Homo sapiens: one gene and its partners. The protein of the gene in region 2 interacts with the protein of the main gene of each other region in a biochemical or structural test. Each region holds a gene or a part of one and is shown on either strand. Other genes may lie near its edges.

Region 1 (5,565 bases), on a different chromosome or scaffold from region 2:
TTTTTGTGGGTTAATTTTGTGAGTTGTTCCCCCAAAACACTTGCCCAAAGTTTGGGCCTGTTTGCCCTCTCATGTTACCAGATTTCAGGCTAATCTGGTGCATATTTAAATAAGGATTACTATGATAGCAATGTGTCTCTTTATACAAATAATTTGTAGCTAGAATTAGATGTGTGTGTGTGTATGTGTGTGTTTATATCTATAGTCAGATATATTTCTTGTAAACCTTAATTAAAGCAGTGTGATTGTTCTTGCAATGCCTGCTCTGTGTCCTTATAAGTAGCTGGTACTGGTGATAAAAGTTTATGTATGACAGTGTCTACTTAAAACATCAGCTAGATTTTTATCCATCATAGACAAATTTCCAGTGTGACCTAATTAAACAATTTTTTAGTACAAAAGGCAATTAAGAGAAACTAACACCATATCCATGGCTTATAACATTTCAACTAAAATGAAAATCAGATGATTTATTTATATAACAACAAATGACTACTATAGACACTTGAAATCATTTATTCAAGGCATTTTTATATAATCTTGCAATCATAGTATAGATGTATAATAAAAGAATATGAGAATGCAAAGAGGAACATAAAGCCAATGTCTGAGCATTTAAAATAAGAGTTCTTCAAAAAAGTTACACGTCTTACAAATAACATTCCTGAAAAATTTGGGAGAAGCTAAAACTTCACTAAAAACCTAACACCAAATGACATGTTACTTAGTTTATAGCAAGCAGTTTTATATTAATTAAATGTTTATATACCACAAGCTAAGATTTAATGCATTTTACATTCAGATTTAAATAACTCAGCACCATTTTAGCTTAGAGGATAAATGAAATGTTTAGTGTTTAAAAGTGGCCCAGGAATTTTGGTAGCTAGGAATGAGACTTAACTCACTGATTGAATATGTTGATTGTGAATATGAGTTCAAAAAAATATGTATATATAGAAAAAAGAGTACTTTTTAGTTATCAGTTAATACACTGATTCGTATCAAAACACATTATTTTTAAAACAAAATATCTCCTTACCAGGAATTCAGTATTTTCATGCAATCTGCTAAAGATTAACTCTCAGTGCCAGGAAAATTTTAATGAATTGCATTTCTTCTAGAATCCGAATATTGGGAATGTTTATAAGTGTGACTATCCTATGAGATTTCAAAGAGAAAAAAAGTACTACAAATAATGCCTAGTGAGTAATTGGATGATAGAAATTGTAAATAAAGTTATTCTATAAAAATATACAGATTTTCTGGAAATAGGCAAGTTGTATTCTCATATATGTTATGCTAGCCTCAGAGGTCAAGACATCTTTAACCCAGACTGTGGTCTGAATCATCATGAGATCGCTAATATGGCATATTGTAAACTGACTCATAAACTCTGAAATTATGTTCCTATTTAGTCCATTTTCTGTCTTTTTTAGTGTAAAAGCCAATCTCCTGTCAGTACTCAACATTCTTTTTATCATTGCCAGTTCCTATTTTTTAAAATGTATTTAGAGTTTGGTAAGACTGGTCTGTGTTATTTTATTAATTGATAACCTTCATCAACTAATTATTATCTTTGAGTTTCGGCAGTTATTCAGAGAAGAGATTCAAAGTTCAAAATAGTTCAAAGAAGTTCAGTAATACAGAGTGTTAAATCAGTACTTGTGAGTTATTTGGGTGTGTTTAGAGGTGCCAGGAGGGGGATGAATGTTCATATAAGGAATAAAGTAGTATTTTTAGCTTCCTAATTGAAAAAAAAAAATCGTCAAAATTAACCAAATAGTAGGTGTTATATTTAAAAGGCAGACATTTCAGGGATTGAACACATTTTTAATTATTAGAAATACATACATGCATATAATTAACCTTTAATTTATTTTTAAAAATAAATTATGGTCATGAAAAACAATAGTGCTTAAAATTGAAATTTCATAGACATGTAATTTTATTCCCTAAAAATGAAATAAGATGAACCTTATGGGTAATAATGGGATTTTTAATACTTATTGAGGTTATAGACAGTCTTTTTTATGTCTCAATGCATACCATGTGAGTACTTGGCATATATTAGGCCTTCAAATGATGATGGATGGATAGACAGATAAAAGGCCCAATGAATGATTGTAAATGTGTCTTCTCCTATGTATCCATGATGATATTGCCTAGTTTTTAATACAAGCTTAAGAATCAATAAAATGATAGATCTGAAATCTGTAGATGCCAGTCTGGCTCAGTATTAATACTGACAGTAGTTTTTTTGTTTTTTAAGAAAGCAAGTATATTAAAATATCTCTGTTAGAAAAGATTACAATTTGAAAGGATCATTCTACAATCTTAGAACTAAAAAGCAATTTAAGGCAAAGAGGTACATCAAAGAAGCTATTCCATAGCTCAGTTACAGCTCAACAAAAGCTCTGTCTGTATTGTCTACTGGTAAGCTTGTGCCCTGGTGGCTAAGGATCATATGTACCGCTATATCCGCCAGTTGATGACTGTCCATCTCTAGCCCCTCTAACCATGCTATGCACCCAGTGAGTGCAGAATGATTACTAGTAATTGATGTTGACTTTACAATTCTATGACATGTAATACAGGATGCCGAGGCACTTTTAAAATTCCACCTAACATGTTCTGGCACTGGAAAATCTTACTTGAGATTTTAATACTGGTTAATATAGGAAAAATTATGCTTAAGCACCACTAACTTAAAAGTGTAATTTCATTTTCTTGAATTTAGGTAAAAGCAAAATTCTCAAAATTCTATTATGGCACATGGTTTCACAGTTTCAAATGAAATCACAGCTGTCTCATTACGCAGCACAGTCCTTGGTTTTGCAGAAAGTATATTTTTCCTTTGTTCACCAACCCCTCAAGTATGTAATACTATGTGCTTTGCTAATTTAGACTATATCTCAGACACACACACATGTGTGACTGATTCCTGAATAACCCAGGATGATGTTCCTGTGTTCTAGATAATATAAAATTTTTAACATTCCTCTAATAGCTGAACATCTTTTTAAAATCTAGAAAACTTGAAAAATCCTAAAATGTTTTTCAATTTTTTTAAGCTATTTGAGAGACAGTTGTGGTTTGGGGGGGACTTGTTTGTGTGATTTTTATGTCAGCAAGAAAATTGTATCTTTGGCAAATACTTTAATATGTTTAAATGCATTTTACCTCTGGATGTATCACATCAGTCATCAAAATGACTTTCCAGTTTCACGGCTGCCTTATGTATACCAGTCCCAAGAATGGTGATATTAAGAATCCCACTTACAACATCTCTGCCCATGGGAAAGATAAAATGATAGAGGGCAGCCTCAAGAAATATCAGACAGGATTGGGCAGCTCCCTTACTTAATTTGTTCCAAAACAAAAGTTGACTCAAGTCAAAATGAAATTGTGCACTTGAAAGAAAGGAAGTTATCTACTAATTTTTTAAATGTAAACATACTTTTTATATAGGGATGTAACTATCTGAGTACATGTATTGCCATTTCTCTGCTATATAGTAATATTTCTTGACACCAATGGTAATGTGTTTGTTTCTTTCTCAGCACCAGATGTGTCCATATGTATTTAAACAGTAGGAGCATTGTTTCTAAATTCATCTATGCTATGACATATATAAACCCATTATTATTATGTTTCACTAAAGTTCCAGCACTTTAGAAAAGTTTCAGTTCAAAGTCATTTTGGCTCATTCATTTAGATAATACTGACCATTTTGCACTACAATTTCAAAAGGAACATGAGAAATTTGGATTTCTTTGAAAGAGTCAAATATGTAATTACAGAATTGAAACACTGTGTTAATTCACAAAGTGATGTAAATAATAAACATTAAAAATTTCCCAAGTAATGATGACTTAAGCGTTCAAAATCCAGTTATGTGCTTTGTTATTGAAAACAGTCCAAACAAAAATTCTTTTGTTGTTTTCTGTTCTCTTTTTCAAAATACATAAATCCTACTGAAGTTAGTCTATTTTTTCCCACTTCAGAACACCAGGCACTGATTTATCCATTGGGAGTTTTGCTTTGCCTTCTAATACCTAGATTAAGAAGACAAAATAAGACAAATTATTAACCTGATAATATAATGAATGAGTACAACAGACAAATTTAAAGTCAACCTTTTAAAAACTTTATGCAACAGTTTCCCTCCACCTAAGCAGCAATCATGTTGTGAAATTATGCAGTAGTACATCATTTTAATAATGGTTTGAAGAAAGTGACTATGTCAACAGCAGAGATGCCTGATGCCTACACTCTTCACATTTAGAGGCAAAGAAACCACTTCTGAAACACTCAAGAGTACAGCAGGACTTCTGGGACCAGCATCCCTGACCAGGGGAATTCATTCCATGGAACAAGGGTGGCATGTCCACCAAGAAGTAGAGTCAAGGCCTCTGCTCCATCTTGAATTAGTCCTTCTCCAGCATGGCTTTGGATGTAGAATAATACATTAATAGGCAGAAACTGGACCAAAGCTAATCAATCAAATATTACTGTCTTTAAATGTGACCATAGATCTTCATGTAAGGAAGTGAAAATTCACTTATTCAAATCATAAACTACCAATTTCCAAACAGTAAATTCTGTGAGGAGAAAAAAAAAAACTTACATAGTATCTTATAACTGAAAGAAGCCTCAGAGTCACCTGGTCCGTACATTTTGTTTCAGTGAGGAAAATGAAGGAGAGAGGGTACATTAACAGCACATACCTATTCAACTATTTACTGGGTGGCTTTTACACATCAACAGAATGCTCTTAAATATCTGGCAGGAAAAGCAATCAGTGAACTGATACATGATATGTCTTCAGAGTCACACTCACTGCTGCTTACACAGCCACCAGACTGACCTGATGGCCTTAGGCAAGTTACACTTCCTGCTCAAAAAGCTTCAGCCTCCCACTGCCTCCAGAATAAATTTTAGCCTGCTCTTCAGGGCTGTCTTCCATCTGGCTCAACTTACTTTTCCATCCTTTTTGTCCAACTCGTAACTCCACAAAATTCATGCTTTAGCCAAACTAGAAGACTTGTTTTTCCAAACATGCCCTGCAGTTTCCTCCTGCCATGCAAGTTGCCTGTGACGTTGACTTGCCCTGGGCTTCCTTTCCTTAATGCTCCCCGGTGCATTCCCCAGACTTCAAGGCTCAATTCAAATGTATCCTAAAGTCACTCCTGAAACTCAGCCCAAAGAGACCTCTCCTCTGTCTGAACTCTGATTCCTAGGAAGGAAGGCCTGATGTGAAAGTCAAAATGTAAGAAGCAAGTATTACTATCCTGAAGGTGTGGGGTTTTTTTCTCAAATATTCTATACTTTCCCCAATATTTCCACTCAGAATAAGTATGACATTTTATTATGATCACTAATTATAATTTCACTTTTCATATTTTCATCTGGTTTATATTAGTTATAAACATTCCAGCTTCAACCACTCTTGAAGTTTGTTACAGTCAGTAATAACTAGTAAAAAAAAAAAAAAAAAAAAAAATTCAACTCTATATGAGTGACCACATCAGGAATCCCTCTTGTACAGTCATATTGCTGGAGCAA
Region 2 (7,111 bases):
TTTGGCAAAGCCCCCTGCCAAGATCGGCTGGCCCCAGGCTCGCTCCCAAACAGGCTGCTTCCAGCTCTTTGAACCTGGAGCCCAGGGCCCAGGCAAATGGCCCTACATGTGACTTGGGGTCAGCTGGGGGTCCCAGACCAGGCTCTTCAGCTCACTGGTTCTCCATTTCCCTGGCTGCAAAATGGGGAGAAACAGCCCTGCCTGAAGTACCTCCTAGGGCCAGTGAGAGCTTCTAGCAATGTAATATCTGGGGGGAAAAAAAGCATCAAATAAAAGGACCGTGGGAATGGGCATTTTTAAAATAATCTATTCTCTTATTCAGAGTCTGCTAATTTGGGCTCATGGATCCTTGTAATTAGTGCACATTGCTAAGGTTTAATACTCCCTCTCACTACTTACACCATGTTTTGTCTAGTGGAGGGGCAGCTAATGTGTAAATAGATGTGCAATGATGAAAGAAGCAGACAGGACTCGGTTGGGGGTGGCCAGAAGGAGCCTTGAGAAATCCAGGAAGGCTTCCCAGCAGAAGTGACATTTGAGTTAAACCTAAAGAGAAAAGTAAATGGGGCCAGGTGCAGTGACTCATGCCTGTAATCCTAGCACTTTGGGAGGCCCACATGGGCAGATTGCTTGAGCCCAGGAGTTTGAGACCAGCCTGGGCAACATAGGAAGGCCCCCGTCTCTATTTAAAAAATAAATGAATATTTAAAAAGAAAGAAAAAGAAAGAAAGAGAGAGAGAGAGAGAGAAAGGAGAGAGAGAGAGACAGAAAGAAAGAAAGGAAGGAAGGAAAGAAGGAAGGAAGGAAGGAAGGAAGGAAGGAAGGAAGGAAGGAAGGAAGGAAGGAAAATGTTGGAGGACCTGTCTGTGGATGAGGGGTAAGTCCCCAGACTACAGGCCCTGGCAGGCAGAACTGAAGAGACAGAAGAGCAGATTCTCGATTGGAGGAAGCCCTGTCTGCAGTTAGTGCTGACAGCATTTGGAGGTGGTGATTTTCCCATCATGGGAGGTATGCAAGCAGAACACGAAGGATGTTTGTGGAAGGAGGTCCAGCCCAGGCCAGAAGACTATTATGATCCCTGAGAGTCTAGGATCGTGATTCTAAGATGCAAGAGACAAGTTCCACCCTGGGCTAGTCGGTGAAACATGCCAAAACCACATAAAACAAGACAAGTGTTCTCCAGGCCAACTGCTTAGGGCCAGCTGAGCAGCACAGTCAGGGAGAGCCGTGGGCTCGGGAAAGGCAGGCGGGAGAGTCTGAGCTCAGCCCTGGTGCGGGGGTAGGACTTGGACAGAGGCAAGGACATTCCTGGCAGGAGAAACGGCTTGTGCCAAGGAGTGGAGGGAGAAGTGAGGATCGCCACGGGGCCTGGGGAAGCAGCTGTTACCTTTTCAAAGTCCTTTCCAATTTCCAGCTGCTGTCATTTTATTCTCACCTCTCTCACTTGCAGAGAGGCAGGAATCCTTCGTAGCCCCTAAACCTTCTCCATTTCCTCATTGCAAAGTGGGGATTAAAACCTCGGGCTCCCCAGGCCGTCAGGTTCAGGCATGAAGTTTGGCAAATGCCACCATCATCAGGGTCTGAACGGTGGGGGTGGAGAGTGGGGACAGAGGAGATCTGGGGGAGGGGAAGCTAAGTCTTCCCCCCAGAAAGTGCCTGGGGTGCAGGAGGGCAGAACCCCAGGAGAAAGGAAGTCAGGGTTCAGCCAGGCCCAGGGGCTCAACAAGCCCAAGGCAGGGGGACTCCCAGGGCAGATGGGGATGAAACAGGTTAGAGCTGGATTCACAGACAACCACCCTGCCACCCCTCTACTTAATTCACCCATCATGTATTGAGTAACTACTGCATACCTGGCCCTGGGCCACGGACTGTGCAGTGAAATGGGAAAAAATGAAACGTAAGTGCCACTGTCTTTTTATTTTTGAGCAATTACTGTCTGCCAGGTCCAGAAGAGGACATAGCCTATTACTTGAACCCTTTTACAACTTGCAGCAACCTTGCAACCTTGCAGCAACCTTGCAACCTTGCAACAACCAAGTGATTATCTGCCCCATGTCACAAAAAAGGAAACCGATGTTCAGAGAGGTTGAGTGACTTTCCCAAGGTCGCACAGATGGTAAGAAGCAGCGAAGGCAGAATTAGAAGCCAGAGGGGTCTGTTCTGAGCACTTTGCTCTTCCCCCCACCTCCACCACACTGTTCCCTGCAGTCTGCTCTGGAGCCAGAGAGTAGAGAGGAAGGGAGAGAGGCACGTGAAGAATGAGGGAGAGGGGGAGAAAGAGGAGGAAGGAGAGAGGCCGAGGCAGAGAAAGACGCATAAGAGACTGTTGAGAGCTGGAGGCCGGAGCCAGGGAAGGCATCAGAGGCCCGAGGCGGGCCATGTGTGTGCTTGGCAGCGGATGACAGGGCCCAAGTGCTCCTTCTCAGCAGGCCCAGCCCCCCTGGGGCCACCACTCCGAGCCTTGAGGTTCTGACCAGATTACTTGCACACTTCAGGCCTGGACTGCAGTGCCTGAGGAGCCACAAGCCCTGGGAGGGGGTGGCGCCGGGGTCTTGGCTCCGGTGGCTGTGACAGCTCCACAGCCCTGACCCTGCTGGGCTGCAGCTGAGGCTGACAGGGCCCTGGGGCCAGCAAGCCCAGCTGTGCAGCGTCGCCAGGCCTCAGAGGCCAGACGTCTGGCCGCGAGGCCTCCCTGGACACATTGCAGAGACACCCGTTCCCCCAGCCCCGCCCATGCCCCACGGGGCTCCCGGCCCCTTTCAGCAAAAGCAGTAAGGGAGGGCTGGGCTGGGGCGTTGGCAAGGTGGCTTGTCAAGCTCAGAGGGGGGCCTTCTGAGGTGGAGGCAGGGCCCCCGGTTTGGGACCCTGTCTGTTGCCATGGCGATGGCTCAGGCAGGGTCTGGATCCAGCATCACAGCGTTCCCCAGTGAGAGCTTCACTGGTCCATGGGGACTGAACTCGTGATCCTGTCTGGCCGGTGAATTCGCTTTTCCTTAGGAAACTATTCACTGTGCTCATTCATGGCGTCCCCCTGCGGCCCCGGCGCCTCCTAAGACAGCCCGTGTCAGACGGCCAGAGCCCCACCCAAGCTCGGCTGCCCAGTGGCTGAGGACGCTGACCTCACGCCGTCCTATCAGTGTGGGAATGGCTGCATTTGTGCTGGCAGCTGCACCTCCTTAATGCTCGCTGTAGCAGCCCAGCCTGCCCTTCCCAAAGCTCTGGCCTCTACCCGGCAGCTCAGCTCGGGAAGGGAGTGGGCTGCCTGGTGAGAGGTGCTCAGACCCAGTGTCTTCCACCCCAGGCCCTCTCCCTGACTCCAGGGAGAACCAGGTAACACAGCAAGAACAATCATACTCTAAGGACTGGCAGCAGGGCGCAGGGGCCTGTCATCCTAGCACTTTAGGAGGCCAAGGCAGGAGGATCGCTTCCAGGAGTTCCAGACCAGCCTGGGGAACATACTGACACCCCATCTTTACAAAAAAATCAATTAGCCAGATGTGGAGGTGCACGCCTGTAGTCCCAGCTACTTGGGAGACTGAGGCAGGAGAATCGCTTGAACCTAGGAGGCAGAAGTTGCAGTGAGCTGAGATCTTGCTACTGCACTCCAGCCTGGGTGACAGAGCAAGACTCTGTCTCAAAAATAAAGCACTGGCCTGAGCTTCAATCCAGGCCCCGTCTCTTTCCAGCTGTGTGGCCCCAGGCATGTCCCTTAACCTCTCTGAGCCTGATTTCATGTCTTAAGATGATAGTCTCTGGGAGCGGTGGCTCACACCTGTAATCCCAGCACTTTGGGAGGCCGAGGCAGGCAGATCACTTGAGGTCAGGGGTTCAAGACCAGCCTGCCCAACATAGTGAAACCCTGTCTCCACTAAAAATACAGAAATTAGCCGTGCTTGGTGGCATGCACCTGTAATCCCAGCTACTCAGGAGGCTGAGGCAGCAGAATCGCTTGACCCAGGCAGACGGAGGTTGCAGTGAGCTGAGATCCCACCACTGCACTCCAGCCTGGGTGAAAGGCCAAGACTCCGTCTCAGTCTCAAACAAAACAAAATGATGATAGTAAGCCCTGCCCTTCCAACTTCACAGGCCGATTTCAAAGAGCAAGAATGAGAACACACTTTGTAAACAGAAACTGCTCTGGAGACAAGCAATGTCATTATTGCCATCAGCATTATTCTTGTTTCCATGTAATTGTGGGTTTTGCCATTGAAAGTAATGGCAAAAATCGCAGTTACTTTTGCACCAGCCTAATAGTTCTGGCTCCTGGAGGACTGACTCTACCTGTTTCCTTTCAGGGGTCCCTGGGGCCATTCCTGGTGGAGTTCCTGGAGGAGTCTTTTATCCAGGTAACGTACATGAAACTTCCACACACCCAGGTCATGCGGATGATGCTGATGTCCATAATAGATGCACATTTTGACACTACAGAAGGTAGGAACATTGACACGCCTACCAGAAGTCACACCCACTTAAAAATGCAATTAACAAGACATTGATTTACAGCTATTAAGAGCATACAGGCTGGACATGGTGGCTTATGCCTGTAATCTCAACACTCTGGGAGGCAGAGAAACAAGGATTGCTTGAGGCCAGGAGTTTCAGACCAGCCTGGACAACATAGTGAGATCCCCCTCTCTACACACACACACACACACAAATTTAAAATTAGCCATGTTCTGCATTGAGAAAAATGAAAATGAAGTATAGAAATTAAAAAAAAATTAGCTGGGCATAGTGGTGCACGCCTGTAGTCCTAGCTACTGGGGAGGCTGAGGCAGGAGGATCACTTGAGCTTAGGAGTTCAAGGCTGCAGTGAGCTATAATAGCACCACTGCACTGAAGTCTGGGTGACAGAGTAAAACCCTGTCTCTAAAAAGAAAAGGGGAAAAAAAGAAAAGAAAAATCAAAAGTAATACTTTCAATACTTAAAAAGTATTTGAGGCCAGGCACGGTGGCTCAAGCCTGTAATCCCAGCACTTTGGGAGGCTGAGGCAGGCGGATCACAAGGTCAGGAGATCAAGACCATCCTGGCTAACACGGTGAAACCCTGTCTCTACTAAAAATACAAAAAATTAACCAGGTGTGGTGGCGAGAGCCTCTAGTCCCAGCTACTCGGGAGGCTAAGGCAGGAGAATGATGTGATTGAACCCAGGAGGCGGAGCTTACAGTGAGCCGAGATCGCGCCACTGCACTCCAGCCTGGGCGACAGAGGGAGACTCCGTATAAAAAAAAATTAAAAAATTAAAAAAAGCATTTGAGTGTACAGAAGTGACCTGGAAGTGGGGAGAGACGCCAGCACTCCCCCAGATACATACTGACACTGGACTACTGGCCAAGCAGAAGAGAAAACCGAGGCTTGCAGAGAGCAGGTCTTGCCCAAGGTCACGTAGTTAGGCAGAGGTGGATTCAGCCATAGCTGGGGGTGGCAGCGGGCTTGCCTGGCAGAAGTACCGATGATCTCTCTTTCTCTTTCTCTCCCCCCACAGGGGCTGGTCTCGGAGCCCTTGGAGGAGGAGGTGAGCTCAGAAACCACACTTGTTCATCACTGAAAGGGCCTGGGTTTCACCCGAGCCACATGCATCCTCAGACCTGAGAACCCTGGGAGACCCGAGCATCAAGGACTCCCTCATTTCACAGACAGCATCCAGGCGGTGGGAGGAGGCTTCTTTGAGAACCAGAACCCATTGGCCTTCCCAGTCCCTCCCCTAGACTTTATGTCTGGTGCCCTCTGCCTTCCTATTTCTTCTTTTTTTTGGTGGGGGAGGACGGGGGGACAGAGTCTCGTTCTGTCGCCCAGGCTGGAGTGCAGTGGCGTGATCTCAGCTCACTGCAGCATCTGCCTCCCAGGTTCAAGTGATGCTCCTCCCTCAGCCTCCCAATTAGCGAGGACTACAGGCGCGTGCCACCACGCCCAGCTTATTTTTGTATTTTTTCTAGAGACAGGGTTTCATCATGTTGGCCAGGCTGGTCTCGAACTCCCAACTTCAAGTGATCTGCCTGACTCGGCCTCTCAAAGTGCTGGGATTACAGGCGTGAGCCACCTTGCCCGGCCCCTTGCCCGGCCCCTTCCTATTTCTTTTTATCCTCAAAAACCTCCCTGCCAAGCCGGCTGAGCAGGCACCATCTTCTTTTTTTTTTTTTTGAGACAAAGTCTTGCTCTTGTCACCCAGGCTGGAGTGCAGTGGCGCGATCTCAGCTCACTGTAACCTCCACCTCCCAGGTTCAGGTGATTCTCCTGCCTCAGCCTCCTGAGTAGCTGGGATTACAGGCACATGCCACCACGCCTGGCTAATTTTTGTATTTTTAGTAGAGACAGGGTTTCACCATGTTTGCCAGGCTGGTCTCAAACTCCTGACCTCAGATGATCCGCCTGCCTCAGCTTCCCAAAGTGCTAGGATTACAGGCGTGAGCCACCACCCCCAGCCCATCATCCCCTTTTGAGGCTGAGACTCTGGGACTCAGAGAGTATAAACCACGAGTTAGAAGTAGAGCTAGGTTCCCAGGGGCTCCAAGTCTGAGCGGGAGGACCTGGGGTGTGTGATTCCACACTGCCCACACTTTGCCCGGGTTGGGGGTTGGATAAGTAGTAGATGGATAAGCTGGGCCACCCCATTCACTATCTTCTCTTCCCTCTGCAGCGCTGGGGCCTGGAGGCAAACCTCTTAAGCCAGGTAAGACCCAAGGCCTCGGAGCATTGAGAGACAGCGAGGGAGCTGGGGAGGGAGGAGCCTACCCAGCTGGGAATGGGACAAGGAAACTAGGAACAGGACAAGGAAGCCAACGGGCAGGAGGAAGGAGGGAGGTGTGGACACCGATTAGCCTCCCAAGGATGAGTAGGCCGGGGCCAGGTCCCAGGGCTTCCAGGAACAAGAGGCTGGAAGCAGCTCCATGTCCTCCCTGTGTGAGGGCGTCTAGCATCTACCCTACATGTGCATGTGTGTTCACCCAGCTGTCCAGAGACTCCTCTCTGCAAAGGAGAGGCTGTTAGAGGCAACATCAGGGATTGCTCCGGTTCCAGTGGCCTCCAAGCCTTACATGACCCTCGGGAGCTCAGACACAGATCCTCAGCCCCAGACTTCCCCTGAGTGGTCCCCTAGCCCTTGACCCCAGA
Region 3 (7,131 bases), on a different chromosome or scaffold from region 2:
GTCGTAGTTGTTCAGAAACACCTGAGCCACCGAGAAGTGCTGCTGGGTGGGCTCCTGCGTCCGCACGTTGTGGGCTCCGAGCACCACGTTCACCAGGCGCTGGGGTCTGCGGGGGTGGGGTGGTCACTCCTCGGCGCCCTGGACACTCGCCGCCGCCCACAGCCGGCCCTTCCCGAGGCCGCGGTGCAGCCCCAGACCCCTCCCTCGGCGACCCTGCCCCGGGCCTCCCCCCAGAACTGCCCACGCGCGCGGGGCCTGGGGTCTGCAGACGGGGCTTAGCTGGGTCCTCCCCGGGCAGAGGGACAGTGGCCGGGCCAGGGCTGGAGGAAGAGGGCGGGGCGGGCGGACAGGGGTGTGGAGGCGGCCGCTCACATGTCCCGCAGGCAGTGCGCGGCCGTCAGCACGAAGCTGGGGTGGATCAAGGTGCCTCCGCAGAAGTGGCTGCCCGGGTTCCCCCGCATCTGCAGGGAGGCCATGTAGGGCCGGGAGTGTGGCTGCGCCTCGTGCCCGCCCACGATCTCCGCAGCTCGGGCAGCACCTGCAGGGGGGGAGTCCAGGCGTCAGGGAGCCCCCAGGCTGCAGGGAAAGGGGGGATGGCAGAGCAGCCCCTGGGCCTCTCCGAGCCTCCGTCTCCCGATCTGCAACCCGGTCAGTGCCTGCTGGCTGGTGGGAAGGACTCAGCGCCCAGGCCGGGGGGGTTATAATTACGACGATTTCCAAAGGCGCCCTGGTGGCAGCTTTCAGTCCTGAGAGTCAGGAAGGCTTTTAAGACGCAGACCAGGTGGCTGGGTGCAGTGGCTCACGCCTGTAATCCCAACACTTTGGGAGGCCGAGGCAGGAGGCTCCCTTGAGCTCAGGAGTTCAAGACCAGCCTGGGCAAAATTGTGAGGACCCCATCTCTACAAAAAATTTTAAAATTAGCCAGGCATGGTGGTGTGCACCTGTCGTCCCAGCTACTTGGGAGGCTGAGGAGGGAGGATCGCTTGAGCCCAGGAGGTCAAGGCTGCAGTGAACTGAGATCACACCACTGCACTCCAGCCTGGGCAACAGAGCAAGACCCTGTCTCTAAAACAAAATTTAAAAAAATGTTTTTAAAGAAGCAGAAAAATTGGTCGGGTGCGGTTGGCCCACGCCTGTAATCCCAATACTTTGGGAGGCCGAGGTGGGTGGATCACCTGAGGTCAAGAGATGGAGACCATCCTGGCCAACATGGTGAAACCCTGTCTCTACTAAAAATACAAACATTAGCTGGGCGTGGTGGCACGTGCCTGTAGTCCCAGCTACTCCGGAGGTTGACGCAGGAGAATCGCTTGAACCCAGGAAGCGGAGGTTGTGGTGAGCCAAGATCGCCCCACTGCACTCCAGCCTGGCAACAGAATGACACTCCGTCTCAAAAAAAAAAAAAAAAAAAATTAGCCAGGTGTGGTGGTTCGCACCTGTAATCTCAGCTGCCTGGGAGGCTGAGGCAGGAGAATCGCTTGAACCCAGGAGGCACAGGTTGCAGTGAGCCGAGATCACACCACTGCACTCCAGCCTGGGCAACAGAGTGAGATTCTGTCTCAAAAAAAAAAAAAAAAAAAAAAAATCCTGGGCGCAGTGGCTCATGCCTGAGTGAGACCCCATCTCAAAAAAACAAAACAAAACAAAATAAAAAAAAAGAAGCAAAAAAAAAAAAAAAAATCAGCCAACAAAGAGACCCATTTTGCAGATGAACAAACTGAGGCATTGAAAATCCCCCTCAGGTCAGGAGTTCGAGACCAGCCTGACCAACGTGGTGAAACCCCATCTCTACTAAAAATACAAAAACTAGCCAGGTGTGGTGGTGTGTGCTTGTAATCCCAGCTACTCAAGAGGCGGAGGCAGGAGAATCATTTGACCCCAGGAGGCTGAGGCTGCAGTAAACTGAGATTGCACCACTGCACTCCAGCCTGGGCGACAGAGCAAGATTCCGTTTCAAAAAAGAAAAAAAAAGGGCCAGGCGCGGTGGCTCACGCCTGTAATCCCAGCACTTTGGGAGGCTGAGGCAGGCGGATCACGAAGTCAGGAGATCGAGACCATCCTGGCTAACACCTTGAAACCCCGTCTCTACAAAAATTACAAAAAATTATCCAGGCATGGTGGTGGGCGCCTGTAGTCCCAGCTACTCGGGAGGCTGAGGCAGGAGAAAGGCGTGAACCCGGGAGGCTGAGCTTGCAGTGAGCCGAGATCGCGCCACTGCACTCCAGCCTGGGCGACAGGGCGAGACTCCGTCTCAAAAAAAAAAAAAAGAAAAAGAAAAAGAAAATCACCCTCAGGATAGGGACCTGAGGGGGCCCATGCTCTCTTCTTCCCCTGATTCCAGCATCACTAACTCCTCGACCCTTTCACTCACTCACTCATTCATTCATTCACTCATTCATTCGTTCACTCATTCACTCATTCACTCATTCATTCACTCATTCACTCATTCATTCACTCACTCATTGATTCATTCACTCATTCATTCGTTCACTCATTCACTCATTCACTCATTCATTCACTCACTCATTGATTCATTCACTCATTCATTTGTTCACTCATTCACTCACTCACTCATTCATTCACTCATTCATTCATTCATGCATATTCACTGAGCATTTGCTGAAGGCTGGGTGCTGTCCAGGAATTCGCCTGTTACTAGCTAATTCCCAAAACAGCTCCTCAGGAGGGAAGGGCTGGGTTTTGCCCGTTTTACAGATAGGCAACTGAGTCAAATGGCCAGGGCTCCCCCTTGCCCTTGTCCTCCCCACCCCTGCAAGCGTTGGTCCCGAGCAGTGAGTGGAGTCTCCCCTGACCCTGCCTCAGTTTCCCCAGCTGTGCCAGAAGGGCTTTGGATGGACCTCGTGGTGGATATTTCCCCACAATCCACCGGGGCCTGGAGGCTGGATGGATGGGCACGTGGCTCACTCACCGCTCAGCAGCAAGGCCAGCAGCACGGACGCCAGGGCAGGGCTGGGGGGCCGGTGAGCCATGGTGGGGTCCAGGGTGCACCCACGGTCAAGCTCCTCTTATAGCCCAATGCCAGAGGCCGTTGAGTTGCCCAATGCCCAGGCTGGGTCCCCACTTCCTCCTTTTGCCTTGGGAGCCTGGGAGTCAGAACGGACTCCGGGGAGGAGGTGGGGGCTTTGGGCTCAAGGTCCCAACCTTTGTGGGGGCGGGGAGGCTGGCTGTCACCCACCCAAGTCGGGGGTCCCTGGCCAGGTGGGCAACATGGCCACAGCCCTCAGAGCAACACATGCCCACGTGCCACCCACAAGGAGACGCCTCCCTGACGAGGTCCCTGTGGCCCCAGCAAAGCCGGCCGTGGCAGGTGTGTCCCGTGGGTGGGTGAGCTGGAAACGGACAGACAGCAGGACGTAGCAGGGGACAGGATGCAGAGCTCGGGAAGGCAGGGCCCCACCACGAGTGCCCTCAGTGCCTCACCTGAGGCCCCAGCGAACATCCTCCTGCCAGTTTTGTCTGGGGGTTTTCTTCCCCCTTTAAGGCCAGGATTCTCAATCAAGAGGTGATTCTGCCCCCAGGGGACCCTGGGCGAGGTCTGAGGACACCTGTGGCTGTCACGAAAGGGGAGCTCCTGGCATGGAGTGGGTGGAGGCCAAGGATGATGCCTAGCACCCTGCAGTGCCCAGGACGGGCCTGCCCCAGAGAAGGATCCAGCCCCGATGTCCACAGGGCCCAGGGGAGAGACCAGTGTTCATTATTTGGGGAAAAAAATGGCCAGGTGCGGTGCCTCACACCTGTAATCCCAGCACTTTGGGAGGCCGAGGCGGGTGGATCGCCTGAGGTCAGGAGTTCAAGACCAGCCTGGCCAACATAGTGAAACCCCATCTCTACTAAAAATACAAAAATTAGCTGCGCGTGTTGGCGGGCGCCTGTAGTCCCAGCTACTCAGGAGGCTGAGGCAGGAGAATCACTTGAGCCTGGGAGGCGAAGGTTGCAGGGAGCCAAGATCGTGCCACTGCACTCCAGCCTGGGCAACAGAGCAAGACTCCATCTCAAAACATAAATAAATAAAAATAAAAAATAAAAAATCCAGTCTGCCCCCTGCTCACACCGGACACCAGAATAAACTCCCGATGGGGCGTACGGCATAAACCCGGGGGACCCCAGCTCCCGGGACTCGCCTCCTCTCTCCCTCCCACTCAGGGTGTGGATTTCAATGTGTGCAGCCTCCTGGGACCTCAGCAGGGCAGAGGATCATGGGACTCAGAGTCTCTTGGGGTCTGTGGAATCCTCTAACCCTGGGGTGATTCTGCCCCCAGGGGTCCCTGTGTGAGGCCTGGAGACATCCGTGGTTGTCACGACTTGGAGGGAGCTCCTGGCAGGGCCCTGCAGTGCCCAGGATGGCCCCGCCGCAGAGACAAATCCAGCCCCCATGTCTGCAGTGCCGGAAACGGGGGAAAGCCGAGGACAGAGGATAAAATTATTTATTTATAACTGAACGGTTTAAACCTACAGTGAAATGGAGAGAAGCACTGAATGAACTTGGAGGCCAAAAAGAAAAAAAGCTTTTTAACGTTTCATTTGGAAAGGATTTCACGCTTACAGAAGTCCAAAGGGTCCAAACTCCCTCCCCGCTCCCCAAACTCCCTCCCCCGGCCTCCCTCCCCCAGCTTCCCTAAATTCTGTCCTCTTGCTCAACCCTCCAGGCTGTGATCGAAGCCAGGGCGCGAAAGTTGATTCCAAATGGCCCCCTCTGCCCCAGCCCCCTGAGTATCACCAGCCACCCTTTGCTGGGTCCTGGGTACACAAGCCACCCATCTTCAGATGTCAGGGTCTCCTCCAGCGGGCGCAGTCCCTCTGCCCTCCCTCAGCCCTTGGGACCATTGAGGAGAGCTGGTGGTCACTCTGCAGAGCGTCCCTCCGTGGGGATGGTCCTGGGTGGCCTCAGGACTCAATGGAGGGAGTCCCGGGCGTGGCGTGTGTCTGTCTCAGGCCCCCCACGTCGAAGCCCATGGCTTCGGCCTGTCTCGTGCTGATGGTAATAACCTTGACCACGTGGTCAGGGCATCTGCCGGTTCCTGCACTGTCCAGTTACTGTTTTCCCCTTTGGATTTTTTTTTTTTTTTGAGACAGAGTCTCGCTCTGTCACCAGGCTGGAGAGCAGTGGTGCGATCTCAGCTCACTGCAATCTCCGCCTCCCGGGTTCAAACAATTCTCCTGCCTCAGCCTCCTGTATAGCTGGGATTATAGACGCCCACCACCACGCCTGGCTAATTTTTTTTTTTTTTTGTATTTTTAGTAAAGACGGGGTTTCACTATATTGGCCAGGCTGGTCTCGAACTCCTGACCTCAGGTGACCCGCCCGTAATCCCGCCAAAGTGCTGGGAACACAGGTGTGAGCCACTGCACCTGGCTATATTAATGTATATAACATAGATGTATACATAAAATATGTAGCATGTATATTATTTACATTATATAATATATAATATTTTAAAATATACATATATATTTTTTGAGACAGGGTCTGGCTGTGTCACCCAGGCTGGAGTGCAGTGGTGTAATCATGGCTCACTGCAGCCTCGACCTCCTGGGCTCAAGCAATTCTCCTGCCTCAACCCCCCAAGTAGCTGGGACCACAGGCATGCTCCACCATGTCCAGCTAAAGTTTTTCTTTCTTTTTTTTTTTTTTTTTGGTTGGCTGTTTAATTTTTTGTAGAAATGGGGTCTTGCTATGTTGCCCTGGCTGGTCTTGAACTGCCAGCCTTCAGGGACGCTCCTGCCTTGACCTCCCCAAATGCTGGGATCACAGGCATGAGCCACCATGACCGACCTGATGTGTATTAAAGAACTAGAGCTGTGGGCCGGGCGCGGTGGCTCACGCCTGTAATCCCAGCACTTTGGGAGGCCGAGGCGGGCGGATCACGAGGTCAGGAGATCGAGACCATCCTGGCTAACACGGTGAAACCCCGTTTCTACTAAAAATACAAAAAATTAGCCGGGCGTGGTAGCGGGCGCCTGTAGTCCCAGCTACTCGGGAGGCTGAGGCAGGAGAATGGCGTGAACCCGGGAGGCGGAGCTTGCAGTGAGCAGAGATTGTGCCACTGCACTCCAGCCTGGGCGACAGAGCGAGACTCCGTCTCAAAAAAAAAAAAAAGAAAAAGAACTAGAGCTGTGGCCGGGCGCGGTGGCTGTTGCCTGTAATCCCAGCACTTTGGGAGGCTGAGGCAGATGGATCACAAGGTCAGGAGTTCAAGACCAGCCTGGGCAACATGGTGAAACCCCGACTCTACTAAAAATACAAAAATTAGCTGGGTGTGGTGGCAGATGCCTGTAATCCCAGCTACTTGGGAGGCTGAGGGAGGAGAATTACTTGAACCCGGGAGGTGGAGGGGGCAGTGAGCTGAGATCGCGTCACTGCACTCCAGCCTGGGCAACAGAGCGAGACACCGTCTCAAAATAAAAGGGTTATTCTCATTCAACAAAAGTGCTGTTGGTTTCAGCCATGAGTCAGCTCATGCTGAGGCAAGCTGTTTGGCTTGCAGTCCTCAGTTTCCCCACCTGTAAAGGCGGGTGAGGACGGTAATAGGACCTTCTGCAGGGCAGCAGTGGGGGTCGACGGATTTGAGGTTTCTTGATTTGTTTTTACATGGAGTTTTGTTCTTGTCACCCAGGCTGGAGTGCAGTGGTGTGACCTTGGCTTCCTGGGTTCAAGCCATTCTCCTGCGTCAGCCTCCTAAGTAGCTGGGATTACAGGCACCTGCCACCACGCCTGAATAATTTGTTTTTTGTATTTGTAGTAGAGACGGGATTTCACCATGTTGGCCAGGCTGGTCTCGAACTCCTGACCTCAGGTGATCCGCCGGCCTCAGCCTCCCAAAGTGCTGGGATTACAGGCGTGAGCCACCGCGCCCTGCCTTTTTTTTTTTTTAATAGAGAGGGGTCTTGCTATGCTGCCCAGGCTCGTCTGGAACTCCTGGGCTCCAGCGATCCTCCCCCACCATCTGGCCACTACCGAATTGTTAAGTGGGTGAATTGCTTGGTGTGTGTGAAGGACATCTCAATAAAGCTGTCAACCAAAAAAAAAAGAAAAGAAAGAAAAGAAAGACCTTGCACACACACTGCTGGATCTAGCACACGCGAGAGCTGCCCAGGGGGCTGCCCCGTCCT

What was found.
Region 1: the proteins of ELN (region 2) and LOX form a complex in vitro, tested with the Homo sapiens proteins (2 studies listed by BioGRID and IntAct).
Region 3: of the proteins of ELN (region 2) and PRTN3, one has a biochemical effect on the other in vitro, tested with the Homo sapiens proteins (one study listed by BioGRID).

Annotation. Positions count from the first base shown.
Region 1 is NC_000005.10:122,062,695-122,068,259, forward strand, and holds the end of LOX (protein-lysine 6-oxidase isoform 1 preproprotein), read right to left. Parts: intron 4,056-5,565; coding exon 4,049-4,055; 3' UTR 501-4,048; downstream 1-500. UniProt on the Homo sapiens protein: Responsible for the post-translational oxidative deamination of peptidyl lysine residues in precursors to fibrous collagen and elastin. Regulator of Ras expression. May play a role in tumor suppression. Plays a role in the aortic wall architecture.
Region 2 is NC_000007.14:74,031,069-74,038,179, forward strand, and holds part of ELN (elastin isoform a precursor), read left to right. Parts: intron 1-4,295; coding exon 4,296-4,346; intron 4,347-5,486; coding exon 5,487-5,516; intron 5,517-6,638; coding exon 6,639-6,671; intron 6,672-7,111. UniProt on the Homo sapiens protein: Major structural protein of tissues such as aorta and nuchal ligament, which must expand rapidly and recover completely.
Region 3 is NC_000019.10:836,868-843,998, reverse strand, and holds the start of PRTN3 (myeloblastin precursor), read right to left. Parts: upstream 3,001-7,131; 5' UTR 2,991-3,000; coding exon 2,930-2,990; intron 539-2,929; coding exon 373-538; intron 107-372; coding exon 1-106. UniProt on the Homo sapiens protein: Serine protease that degrades elastin, fibronectin, laminin, vitronectin, and collagen types I, III, and IV (in vitro).